Regions from separate parts of the Homo sapiens genome. Here region 2 is linked to region 1. Evidence: fine-mapped expression QTL. Tissue or cell type: T cells. Region 1 holds a variant in brackets; the other region holds the start of a gene. All regions are shown on one strand. Distances are between the middles of the regions.

Evidence for each region. PIP is the estimated chance that this variant, and not a neighbour inherited with it, causes the effect.
Region 2: it holds the start of SAMD10, and the variant in region 1 is fine-mapped to the expression of SAMD10 in T cells (TOPMed, PIP above 0.99). The same link has a PIP of 0.9 or more in blood mononuclear cells and whole blood.

The regions. Positions count from the first base shown.
Region 1 is chr20:64,011,950-64,019,289 of GRCh38, reverse strand. It overlaps PRPF6 (pre-mRNA processing factor 6), which reads right to left. Exons shown (of 21, transcript NM_012469.4): 12 at 2,445-2,567. Among named protein-coding and RNA genes, the nearest start is that of C20orf204, 21 kb to the left of the region's middle. RefSeq lists enhancers at 1,392-2,591, 6,649-7,340. The variant G/A (reference allele first, on the strand shown) is at 4,041.
Region 2 is chr20:63,977,478-63,982,477 of GRCh38, reverse strand. SAMD10 (sterile alpha motif domain containing 10) reads left to right here and starts at 2,836. Exons shown (of 5, transcript NM_080621.5): 1 at 2,836-3,101. The coding sequence starts at 3,011. It overlaps PRPF6 (pre-mRNA processing factor 6), which reads right to left and starts at 1,346. Exons shown (of 21, transcript NM_012469.4): 1 at 1,162-1,346. The coding sequence starts at 1,232. RefSeq lists silencers at 1,052-1,161, 2,722-3,041 and enhancers at 2,232-2,291, 2,887-3,402, 3,388-3,682.

The DNA of each region.
Region 1 (7,340 bases):
ATAAAAAATATAAAAATTAGCCAGGTGTGGTGGCAGGCACCTGTAGTCCCAGCTACTCAGGAGGCTGAGGCAGGAGAATTGCTTGAACCCTTGAACCTGGGAGGCGGAGGTTGCAGTGAGCCAAGATCGTGCCACTGGACTCCATCCAGCCTAGGAGACAGAGTGAGACTCTGTCCCAAAAAAAAAAAAAAAAAAAACCAACAACAAAAACTATTACCGCTGCCCTGCGTCTTAACTCACCTAAGGATTGATGTGTGTATTTTAGCATACATGGGGCAGGAGGATGGCCCAGCCGGCACACAAGCTCTGGGTCACGCCACACGGGGTGCAAAAGAATCATGTGTGTATCACACGGTCAATGCCAGCAGTGGGGTCTGATTCCAAGGACCAAAGGAGGAGCCATTGACCAATCCAGATGGAAGGAAGTGAACGCACACGGATGAAGGAGAAAGTGAAGCTCTTCGTTACTGTAGAATTCCAACTAATAAAATGTAAGAGAAACTGTTCACAAAATCATTATGCAGGTGTGACCAGGCACAGTGACACGCCTGTAATCCTACATACTTTGGGAGGCTGAGGTGGGATCACTTGAGGCCAGGAGTTCGAAACCAGCCTGGACAACATAGTGAGATACTGTTTCTACAAAAAAAATTTAATATATAAAAAAAGATTTAAAAAAAATCACCATTTAGCAAACACCACAGAAATAACTGATTCAGGCCAAGAAGCATCATTAATGGATCCTCAAAATACTTATTAATAATAACAAAGAAACAAACAGCAACCATACAGTGGAAACACCTGCGGCCACTGCCCGCACCAGACGGTCGGAGTTGAACAGGTGCACACCTCTCCGTATGATGCACCAAGAAGCCTCAACCCAACCCGGAGGAGACACCACAGAGAACCAGATGAAAGAGGAGTCTACAGCATCACTGGCCCGTGGTCCTCAAAAAATTCACACTCAGGAACAACAAAGGCTGAGGCTCTCTTCCAGACTAGCCTGAGGATGACCCTGTATTCCTCACAGAAGACAGTTGGTTTTTTCTTCTGCTAAAAGGACACAGAGACAACGGGTGAGACTTTTTCTTTTTTTGAGATAGGGTCTTGCTGTCACTCAGGCTGAAGTGCAGTGGCGCAATCACAGCTCACTACGGCCCCAAACTCCTGAGCTCAAGTGATCCTCCCACCTCAGCCTCCTGAGTAGCTGGGACTACAAGCGTGCACCACCATGCCTGGCTTTTGTTTCTGTAAAGATGGTGTTCTGCCATGTTGCCCAGGCTGGTTTCAAACTCCCGAGCTCAAGCGATCTGCCCATCTCGGCCTCCCAAAGTGCTGGAATTACAGGCGTCAGCCCCATGCCCAGCCTGTGGGTGAGATTTGAGTAAGGTCTGAAGTTACCTGACAGCACTGTCCCAACATCAATGTCCTGATTTTGATAACTGAGCTATGGCTGTGTAAGAGAACGTCCTCTTTTAAAGAAATACACACCAAAGTGTTTAAGGTAAAGGGCACCACATCTGCAACTCATTCATTGTCAAACAGTTCCAGAAAAAAAAATAAGAGGTAAGTGCATGAGAGCGAACAGAGTAAGAAAGCAAATCTGCGGCCAGGCGTGGCGCCTCACGCCTGTGATCCCAGCACTCTGGGAGGCCGGGCGCGGCGGCTCATGCCTGTGATCCCAGCACCGTGGGAGGCCGGGCGCGGCAGCTCACGCCTGTGATCCCAGCACCGTGGGAGGCCGGGCGCGGCGGCTCACGCCTGTGATCCCAGCACTCTGGGAGGCCGGGCGCGGCGGCTCACGCCTGTGATCCCAGCACTCTGGGAGGCCGGGCAGGGCGGCTCACGCCTGTGATCCCAGCACTCTGGGAGGCCGGGCGCGGCGGCTCACGCCTGTGATCCCAGCACTCTGGGAGGCCGGGCGCGGTGGCTCACGCCTGTGATCCCAGCACTCTGGGAGGCCGGGCGCGGTGGCTCACGCCTGTGATCCCAGCACTTTGGGAGGCCAGGCATGGCGGCTCACGCCTGTGATCCCAGCACTCTGGGAGGCCGGGCGCGGTGGCTCACGCCTGTGATCCCAGCACTTTGGGAAGCCAAGGCGGGGTGGATCACGAGGTCAGGAGATTAAGACCATCCTGGCTAACACGGTGAAACCCCGTCTCTACTAAAAATACAAAAAATTAGCTGGGCGTGGTGGCACATGCCTGTAGTCCCAGCTACTCGGGAGGCTGAGGCAGGAGAATGGCGTGAACCCAGGAGGTGGAGGTTGTAGTGAGCTGAGATAGCGCCACTGCACTCCAGCCTGGGCGACAGAGCAAGACCCCGTCTCAGATTTAAAAAAAAAAAAAAAGAGTTTTAAAATAGCCTAGTAGTTTATAAGGTGCCTGCTGTTCCCACAAGCAGAGACTCCATATTACGGACAAAGGCCCCTGTTGCCAACTCACACTGTCAGCATCCTCCATCCAGGTATGCTTCCGATCTTCCTCCTCAATCCCAATCCCAATCACGGCACGCATGACGGCCTGGCAGGTGGCCACACTCCCAGCCCTGTCACATTCCTCGGCATCCTGAAAGAGGAACACAAAACTTATTTGTGATTTTGGAAATCAGAGCTGCAGATTCCCAACGGGGAGTACGGAGTTCCTGAACGGTTAAAACTGACAGACATCAGCACAAGATGCTGACACTGCCTACTGGGGATCTGAGGAAGTGAGTCTACTGCACGCCAATCAGAAAAAACAATAGAGAAATGTCACAAAGGACATAGGCACACTGTTCACTAGAAAATAAAAATACAAACAACTTTCAAACATGTGAAAAGAAATGTAAAGCCTTTTTATTTTATTTTTTTAAGAGACAAGGTCTCAGCCAGGTGTGGGGGCTCACACCTGTAATCCCAGCACTTTGGGAGGTCGAGGGTGGATCACGTGGTCAGGAGTTCGAGACCAGCCTGGCCAACCTGGTGAAACCCTGTCTCTACTAAAAAATAAAATACAAAAATTAGCCAGGCGTGGTGGTGGGTGCCCGTAATCCCAGCTTACTCGGGAGGCCGAGGCAGGAGAATCACTTGAACCCGGGAGGCGGAGGTTGCAGTAAGCCAAGATCACGCCACTCCACTCCAGCCTGGGCAACGGAGCAAGACTACGTCTCAGAAAAAAAAAAAAAAGAGAGAGAGTCAAGGTCTCTCCCTGTCACTCAGGCTGAAGTGCTGTGGTACAATCATAGTTCACTGCAGCTTCCAACTCCCAGGCTCAAGGGATACTCTCACCTCAGCCTCCCGAGTAGCACAGACATGCACCACCATGCTCAATGGTACATTATGTTTCATAGATACAGGGTCTCCTTATGTTGCCTAGGCTGGTGTTAAACTCCTGGTCTCAAGTAACCCTCCTGCTTTAGCCTCCCAAAGTGCTGGGATTAGTGCATAAGCCACCACACCCAGCCCCTATTCTTATTTTCAAGATGCTAATTAAACTATTCTAAGTACCATTGTGCACGTATCAGATGAGCAACATTGAAACATGTGCTGACTGGCTCACTTGGTGAAGGGGGCATAAATCTTATACTGCAAAGAAGCACATATCTCTATGGAGGGCAATTTCTCATTCTCTATCAAAATAAAACAGGCACATATTTGACCCAGCAGTTCTACTTTAAGGCATTCATGTGACAAATATATTCCCATGTGTGCAAGAGAATGTGTCTACCAACAAGAGAACAATAACCCAGCCAGAGCAACAGGGTGCAGGAGCACAGGCACCACTGCGGCATGCCAACATGGGGGACCACGACATGGACCGTGAGCAAAGTGCAACCGGAGCCACATGCCTCCCAGACCCTCCCAGGGCCCTGCCAGCACCAGAAAACCATCCCAGACAGAAAGCAGAGCCAAGAGCAAGGATCTGAGGCAGAGACGCTGGCACAAAGGTCAGTGGTGAGAAGAATGCGTGGGGCAAGGACCCAGCACCCAGACCCTCAGGGGCCTGCGGCAAAGGTGCTGGCTCTTCCTCCATGGACAGTTTCTACTGAACGCAAACTGC[G/A]CTGGCTCTTCCTCCATGGACAGTTTCTACTGAATGCAAACTGCTTTTGAACCACGGCAAAAGTCAAACCATGGGAAGTCAGGGACCATCTGTAGTTGCAAATCATGTCTCTGATAAGTGACAATATATCCAGAATATATAAAAACATCTCTTACAACTCAATAATAAAACAACAGACAAAAATAATACATAGACCATAATAAAGACACAATCCAATGTAAAAGTAGGCAAAGGATTTCAATACCTCCATGCTACAACATGGAGGAACCCTGAAAACACACTAAGTTAAGGCCAGTCACAAAAGACCACGTGTCGTGTGATTCCACTCACGGTGTCGGACGATGCAAAAGCCACCACGCTCAGTAGAAGCAATACTTTGACTCAAACCACCAGTCTGTTTTTCACTTTCATCGTAGCATTCAATAAATTACGTGAGTTATTCAACACTTTACGTTCGATGACTCTGCCCAACTGTAGGCTAAGGTAGGTGTTCTGAGCATGTTTGACGTAGGCAGGCTAAGCTGTAAAGTTCAGTAGGTTAGGTGTATCACACGCATTTTATTTCATTTTATTTTATTTTATTTATTTTTTGAGACAGAGTCTCGCTCTTTTGCCCAGGCTGGAGTACAGTGTCACGATCTCGGCTCACTGCAACCTCTGCCTCCGCCAGGTTCAAGCAATTCTCCTGCCTCAGCCTCCCGAGTAGCTGGAATTATAGGTGCCCACCATCATGCCTGGCTAATTTTTTTGTATCTTTAGTAGAGACAGGGTTTTACCATGTTGGCCAGGCTGGTCTCAAACTCCTGACCTCAAGTGATCCACCCGCCTCAGCCCCGCAATGTGCTGAGATTATAGGTGTGAGCCACAGCACCCAGCCTCAAATCCATTTTAGACTTATGATATTTTCAACTTACAATGGGTTTATCAGGATATAAGCCCATAAGTTGAACATCTGTATATAAAATGTCCAGAAAAAAATGTGTAGAGAAAGAAAGTAAAAAAACAAGGTTAGACAGGCACGGTGGCTCACGCTTGTAATCCCAGCACTCTGGGAGGCCGAGGCAGGTGGATCATCTGAGCTCAGGAGTTTGAGACCAGCCTGAACAACATGGCAAAACCGCGTCTCTACAAAAAATAGAAAAAAATTAGCCAGGTGTGGTGGCGCATGCCTGTAGTCCCAGCTACTCAGGAGGCTGAGGCAGGAGAATTGCTTGAGCCCAGGAAGCAAATGTGGCAGAGAGCCAAGATTGATTGCACCATACACTCCAGCTTGGGAGACAGAGACCCACCCTGTCTCAAAAAAAAAACAAAAACAAAAACAAAAGGCTACAGAGGTATGAAAATGGGGAGCAACAACTCACGGACACAGGATTTCTTTCTGGGGTGATGAGAAGGTTCTAGGATTGTGGTGATAGCGCATAGCTCTGTGAATATACTAAAACCACTGAATCGTAAACTTTAAATGGGTGGATTCTGTAGAACGCTAGTTATAGCTTAATAACCTGTCATATGCTGGGTATGGCAGCTGATGCCTGTAATCTCAACACTTTGGGAGGCTGAAGTGGCAGGATTGCTTAAGGCCAGGAGTTTAAGACCAGCCTGGGCAGCATAACAAGACAAAAAATAAAAATAAAAAAAATTGGCCAAGCATGGTGGCACACGCCTGTAGTCCCAGCCACTTGGGAGGTTAAGGCGGGAGGATTGCTTGAGCCCAGGTCAAGGATGCAGTGAGCCATGACTGCACCACTGCACTCCGGCCTGAGCAACACGGCGAGACCCTGTCTCAAGAAAGAAAGAAGGAAAGAAAGAAAGAAGAAGAAAGGAAGGAAGGAAAGAAAGACAAACTGTCATAAAATATAACAGAAAATAGTAATTTCATTATTTATTTTTCTTGAGAGAAACATAACTCAGTGGGTGACTCCTTAAAAGAAGGCATTAGAGGGAACCCAAGCCCTACTTCCTAAGTTAGATCATCTTTGGAAACTTTTCTATAGCCTTAAGTCTACAGACAAAGATAAAAGACAGGGAAGACCAAGGCGGGCAGGTTGCTTGAGGTCAGGAGTTCGAGACCAACCTGGCCAACATGGTGAAACTCTGTCTCTTCTAAAAATACAAAAATTAGCTGGGTATGGTGGCGGGTGCCTGTAATCCCAGCTACTCAGGTGACTGACGTAGGAGAACTGCTTGAACCCAAGAGGTGGAGGTTGCAGTAAGCCAAGATCGTGCCACTGCACTCTAGCCCTCTAGCCTGGGTGACAGAAAGACTCCCTCTCAAAAAAAAAAAAAAAAAAAGGGTGTGGGGGAGAGGGGAAGAGTAAAAGAAGCCATGAGACTTCCTGTCCTCCTCTCGTAGGTGTATCATTTCTACTAGCAAAGAAAGAAGCCATGAGACTTCCTGTCCTCCTCTCGTAGGTGTATCATTTCTACTAGCAAAGAAAGAAGCCGTGAGACTTCCTGTCCTCCTCTCGTAGGTGTATCATTTCTACTAGCAAAGAAAGAAGCCGTGAGACTTCCTGTCCTCCTCTCGTAGGTGTATCATTTCTACTAGCAAAGAAAGAAGCCGTGAGACTTCCTGTCCTCCTCTCGTAGGTGTATCATTTCTACTAGCAAAGAAAGAAGCCGTGAGACTTCCTGTCCTCCTCTCGTAGGTGTATCATTTCTACTAGCAAAGAAAGCCGTGAGACTTCCTGTCCTCCTCTCGTAGGTGTATCATTTCTACTAGCAAAGAAAGAAGCCGTGAGACTTCCTGTCCTCCTCTCGTAGGTGTATCATTTCTACTAGCAAAGAAAGAAGCCGTGAGACTTCCTGTCCTCCTCTCGTAGGTGTATCATTTCTACTAGCAAAGAAAGAAGCCGTGAGACTTCCTGTCCTCCTCTCGTAGGTGTATCATTTCTACTAGCAAAGAAAGAAGCCGTGAGACTTCCTGTCCTCCTCTCGTAGGTGTATCATTTCTACTAGCAAAGAAAGAAGCCGTGAGACTTCCTGTCCTCCTCTCGTAGGTGTATCATTTCTACTAGCAAAGAAAGAAGCCGTGAGACTTCCTGTCCTCCTCTCGTAGGTGTATCATTTCTACTAGCAAAGAAAGAAGCCGTGAGACTTCCTGTCCTCCTCTCGTAGGTGTATCATTTCTACTAGCAAAGAAAGAAGCCGTGAGACTTCCTGTCCTCCTCTCGTAGGTGTATCATTTCTACTAGCAAAGAAAGAAGCCGTGAGACTTCCTGTCCTCCTCTCGTAGGTGTATCATTTCTACTAGCAAAGAAAGAAGCCGTGAGACTTCCTGTCCTCCTCTCGTAGGTGTAT
Region 2 (5,000 bases), 36 kb after region 1:
AAATTCTGGGCCGGGCGTGGTGGCTCACGCCTGTAATCCCAGCACTTTGGGAGACGGAGGCGGGTGGATCATGAGGTCAGGAGTTCAAGACCCCCCTGGCCAACATGGTGAAACCCTGTCTCTACTAAAAATACAAAAATTAGCCGGGCGTGGTAGCGGGCACCTATAATCCCAGCTACTCAGGAGGCTGAGGCAGAGAACTGCTTGAACCCGGGGGGCAGAGATTGCAGGGAGCTGAGATCGCACCATTGCACTCCAGCTTGGGCGACAGAACAAGACTTTGTCTCAAAAAATAATAATAATAATAATAATTCTGAAGGGTCATGATCTTTCTAACGTCTCCAGGAGCTCTAGCCTGACGCTCAAGGCCCCTCCAACCTCCTGAGCTCTATTCTATTCGCTGTACATTCCACTCACACTGGACTCCCTCCTGTTCCCTGGGCTTCCTCCTTGCCTCACTTTTTTTGAACTCCCACACGCAGAATGTCAGTTTCTCTTCTATCGTCACCGTTTCTACAGCCCTAAGTCCAGCTCTCTTACTAAACTTGGCTCCAATGCTACTCTCCATTAAGCACTGGGTTCTAAATCTGGTCCTCTTTACGTACTTATTTATGGTAATAGCAAACCCTCCTTAGTGAGCTTGTGTGTGCCCCACAGATTCCAATATAATACCACCACCAAGAAAAACCCAGTAGTGTTCCTCATCAAATGAATAGCCAAATAGGATAATAACGACTGCTCACTTATCCAGCAACGCACGGTGGTCATCTGTGTTGCAGGCATAGAGGACCCAGGCACGCTTAAGGCGGGGCGGGCGGGCGGGCGGGGGGGGGGAGTGTCAGCCCGACCTGAGGAAGGTGGTCGCGTGTTTCCACTACACGTCAGATTCCTCTACTCCTCACTGCAGACCGTATACAGCATTACCCATCTTACAGACCAAAACACTGGGCTGAGAGTCAATGTGTCACATCTAGGCGGCAAGCAGGGTGCACACACAGGTATGTCCTGACCCCAAAGCCCGTTGCTTCCTGCAGGGATTAAGCCGATCCACCAAGCGTCTTTCAGACTGCGCGGCCATAGACCCCCGCCCCCAAACACGCCCCAAAGCACTGCGCTCCTGTAGCCGGGTCCCCGCCCCTCGCGCGCCGCCCCAGGCCTCACCCCCGGCCCAGCCCCGGCACGTAGCCGAGGGGCGCGGGCATCCCTAGGAACGGTTTCTTCTTCTTGTTCATGGTGGCGGCGACGACCAAGGCTAGGAAGGAAAGGAATGAGGCAGCGGAAGAGGGAAAGACGCAGAGACTCTAGGCTTCGACGTCCGATGCACTCCGTAGCAAAGTGTCGCCGTCGTCGCGTCACCCGCGCCCCGGAAGCAGAGCGCTCAGTCCGCACACGCCCCGCCCACTTTTGATTCCCTGGGCGGAAGTCCCGACGTCCTGGTTCGACGACTTCCGGCCGCGGCTAGGGGGCAGGAACGTGGTAGGCGCGTGCGCGGGAGCGCCTCCTCGTGGAGAGGCGGAAGAAGCTAGGTCGAGCTTGCACTGGGACCCTAACTGGCCCCTGGGGGCTAAAAACAGCCTGGGGCATTGCTGCTTCCCGAGTGCTCTGATGCAGTCCGGAGACCTGTCTGTGAGAGTGGGACCCATGGTCCCCTCCCTCTGAACCCATGGCCCCCTCCCTCTGAACCAGCCCAGCTGCCCGCCCTCGCCCCTGGTGCGCCCTGTCCGAGCAGAGCTGTACCCTGTCCAGTTGTGTAGAGCTTGTGTGTACTGGTTATGGGCACACCTGTCTGTGTGCGTCCTGTGCGCACACTGCTGCCCTACGCTTTTAGCACTCATATTCTTGAACCCCCATTCAGGCATCTGTCCCTCCAGTGGGACTAGAGACCCCACCCACGCCCGCCAACATGCCTTGGACATTCTGGTGAGGGCCACATCCTTAGCTCCTGGAGAGCTAATTGACGAAATAAATAACCGCAGCTGAGCTGTCGGGAACACGTCAGTACATGAACATGGCTGTCAAGCATGTGGGTGAATTCTGTGTGTGTGATTAGTGGGGTGTGTGCACAGAGGTCACGTGTGCTCGTGTTTTGGGTGCAAGTGCATGACTGTACTCTGTGCATGCATTTCTACATGTCTGTGTGCATCTCTGGTCCTCCTGCTGTAAGACATCCTCCAGAGCCCCTACATACACCCAGGGAGAGCACCCAGGCTCCTGGGCAGAGCAAGCCGAATAGCTGGTTGCAAGCCTGGCCTGCTGCTGCACCAGGCAACCACAGTTCCCTAGCCCAGCCCCATCTCAGCACTTCTCACTGGAGTCCTGGAGCAAACACACCGCTCCGGCCTGCTACAGCCTCCTTGGAGTTCCCCTCTGCCCCATCTCCAGGCAAGCCAAGCCCCTTTCAGTTACAGAGCACTGTACCGCCCCCTCTCCCCCGGGCACTGAGCCAGGTTCTGGGGCTGCAGAGGGAAGGGAGAACCACCCTGATGTTCACAGTGGGGTGGGCGGTAAGCAAGAGTCAAGCTGGTTTCTCCGGGGAAGCGGGTGCCTATTTGAAGGCGAGTAAAGACGTAGGAGACCGAGGAAAGTGTGTGGGAGGCGTTGACCTGCCCCTTGTCCTGGCCCCGGTAGGTAGAAGACCCCTGTGAGATGCCCCTCAGCCCACCCCCACGCACAGAGGGGCCCGACCTCAGAGGACGCCCGGCAGGTTCACGGGGACTCTCCTCCGCGGAGCCGTGCCCAGGGGCGCACGGACGCCCCTCGCCCTGGCGGACAGCCTTGGTGCACGCAGGCCCGCGCGCCGCCGACACACCTCGGAGCTCCCGGAGCGCGCCCGGCACACAGGGCTCGGCGGCAGGTGCCTCGTCGCGCACACTCGCGGGCCGCGGGGACCGGCTCGGGCGCGGGGCCGGCTGGGGCGGGGCGGGGCGGCGGCGCGCGTTCCCCGCCGGCCACACCGGCCGCCCTGCACTCGGCGAGGGGCGTGTGCGCGGGCCTGGCACCCGCGGGCCCCATGTTCACCGAGCTGAGGTCCAAGCTGAGCCCCCCGCGTGGCCGCGCCGGGGCCGTGCGCGCGGGCTTCGGGGAGCGCCGGGATGTGGACGGTGAGCGGGGCTGGATTGGGGAGCGGGGATTTCTCGGGCGGGGGTCTCAGGGACCCAGAGGCACGGGGGCGGGGCGGGACCCGGCGGGCTTCGAGCGGCGGTGGCTGGGGGTATTCGGCGGATGTCTCGGCTCAACGGGGTCCCGTAGCCTTTGTCCTGCTTTAGGGGGCAGCCAGCCTCAGGCCTTGGGGGTCAGCGCGCCCTTGGCTTGGGGTGAGGGGGTGTCAAGCCGGGGCGCCTGTGTCCAGGCTGGCACTACGCTCGGGTCACCTTTTCCTGCGCACGGGGAAAACCCTCCCCCGCTTTTGCAGTGGGGCCGAAAGGGGGCCGAGGTCACATCCCGCCTCGGTGCCCCCGCCCCATTTCCTTCTGGAATCCTGACGTTGGGGCGGGAGGGACCGGACCGACAGACCGCGGGACGGACGGAACTCCCTCCGGGAGTGCAGGCAGGAAATGGGCGGAGCCTGCTTGGCCGGGGCAGGTGCCGTGCGGGCTGAGGAGTCCGACGGGTTTCCCCGGACTGCCGCGCGCTTCTGCACCAGCCCCGCCGCTCGAGGCCCTGCAAAGCCCGGCGACCACGGCGCCTGTCCGCTGGAAGGCGCGGGCTTAGAATAAGCCTTTTCCCACAGCACTAGGGGCCACCTCGGGGCGGTGGCCCACTGAGCACACCCTCTGCTGACCCCAGACCTCAAATTTGGAGTCACCCAGGGGTCCGGTTCCTGAAAGTTGCAAGAATGGGGGCGGAAGGTGTTATGTCTCCTAAGTCTTACAGGCGTGGGAGGACGGGGAAGTAGGATGTGGTTTTCACCGATACTTAGACCTCCTAGACACATCCCCAACCCCTGCCCTGGGTGTGGAGTGGGTGGCTGAGTCTGAGGCCGGGAGGGTCTCTCACTCTAGGGTGGATGGGATGAGGGCCCTAGCGTGGGAACCTCACCTGCCCTGCTGAAGGCCTGGGTGCTAGGGTGCTGTAAAGACAGGGGCAGGCCTGTGCCCACCTTCTGTCTCCCCACAGGCTCTGTTCACTTGCAGATACCATACAGAGCCTTCATTCATTCATTCATTGACAATGAATGTGGGGTGCCCCTCTGTAACCAGACCTGGATCAAGACGCCTGCCTCCCCAGACTCAGGTCAGCAGTGCCCCCAGAGATGATGACAAAGCTCAGATGAAACACTTTAATGCAGTTACTGTGGGAAGAGGGAGCACAGAGCATCACCGTGGGTCCCCAAGCAATGGCTGCACCCCACATACCTGTGCTGACCCGCCCATATCCAATGGGTACCCACCATTCACATGGCCGGTGTTGTCCCGGGCTGCAGGCCCTGTGGGGGGCGGCACAGCTGGAGAGCCCAGCGCGTGTTTGCGGAGTGAGCCCTGCTTGTCAGTTGGCCCACAGTTCAGGCTGTCAATGAGTCATAGTCAGTGAGTCGGGCCCCAACACCAGATAGGGCTGTGTGAACTGGGTGCCTTCAGTGGCGATGGGCAAGCAGCATCCTCAGCCCGGTTTCCCCAGCACAGACGACCTCCCCGGACTCGGGATCTGCCTTTCCTCAAAGCAGGCCGTGTGTGCACTTCCTGGTCTGGTGTGGTGTGTGCAAGACTTGTGGGCCAGCCCAAGGCAAGGGTGAGGTCAGGGCTGTCCCAGGATAGCTCCTCTTGTCATATGTCTCAGGTTCCCTTCCCTAGAGGGCACATCCTCTGATCTAAGAATCCATCCTGCTCCCCTGGGTGAGGGCTGTAGACTTGCAAGATGAAAGGTGTTTCCAGTTCTTCTCTTTTTGTGCTGGGTGAGGTCCTCGAAACAGGTCCTGCACACTTCCTTCTGCCTTTGGAGGCTTGGGAACCCCTCATTGGGGAGGTGATTTCCCGCACTAGTGTGGAGGAGATGGGGCAGGG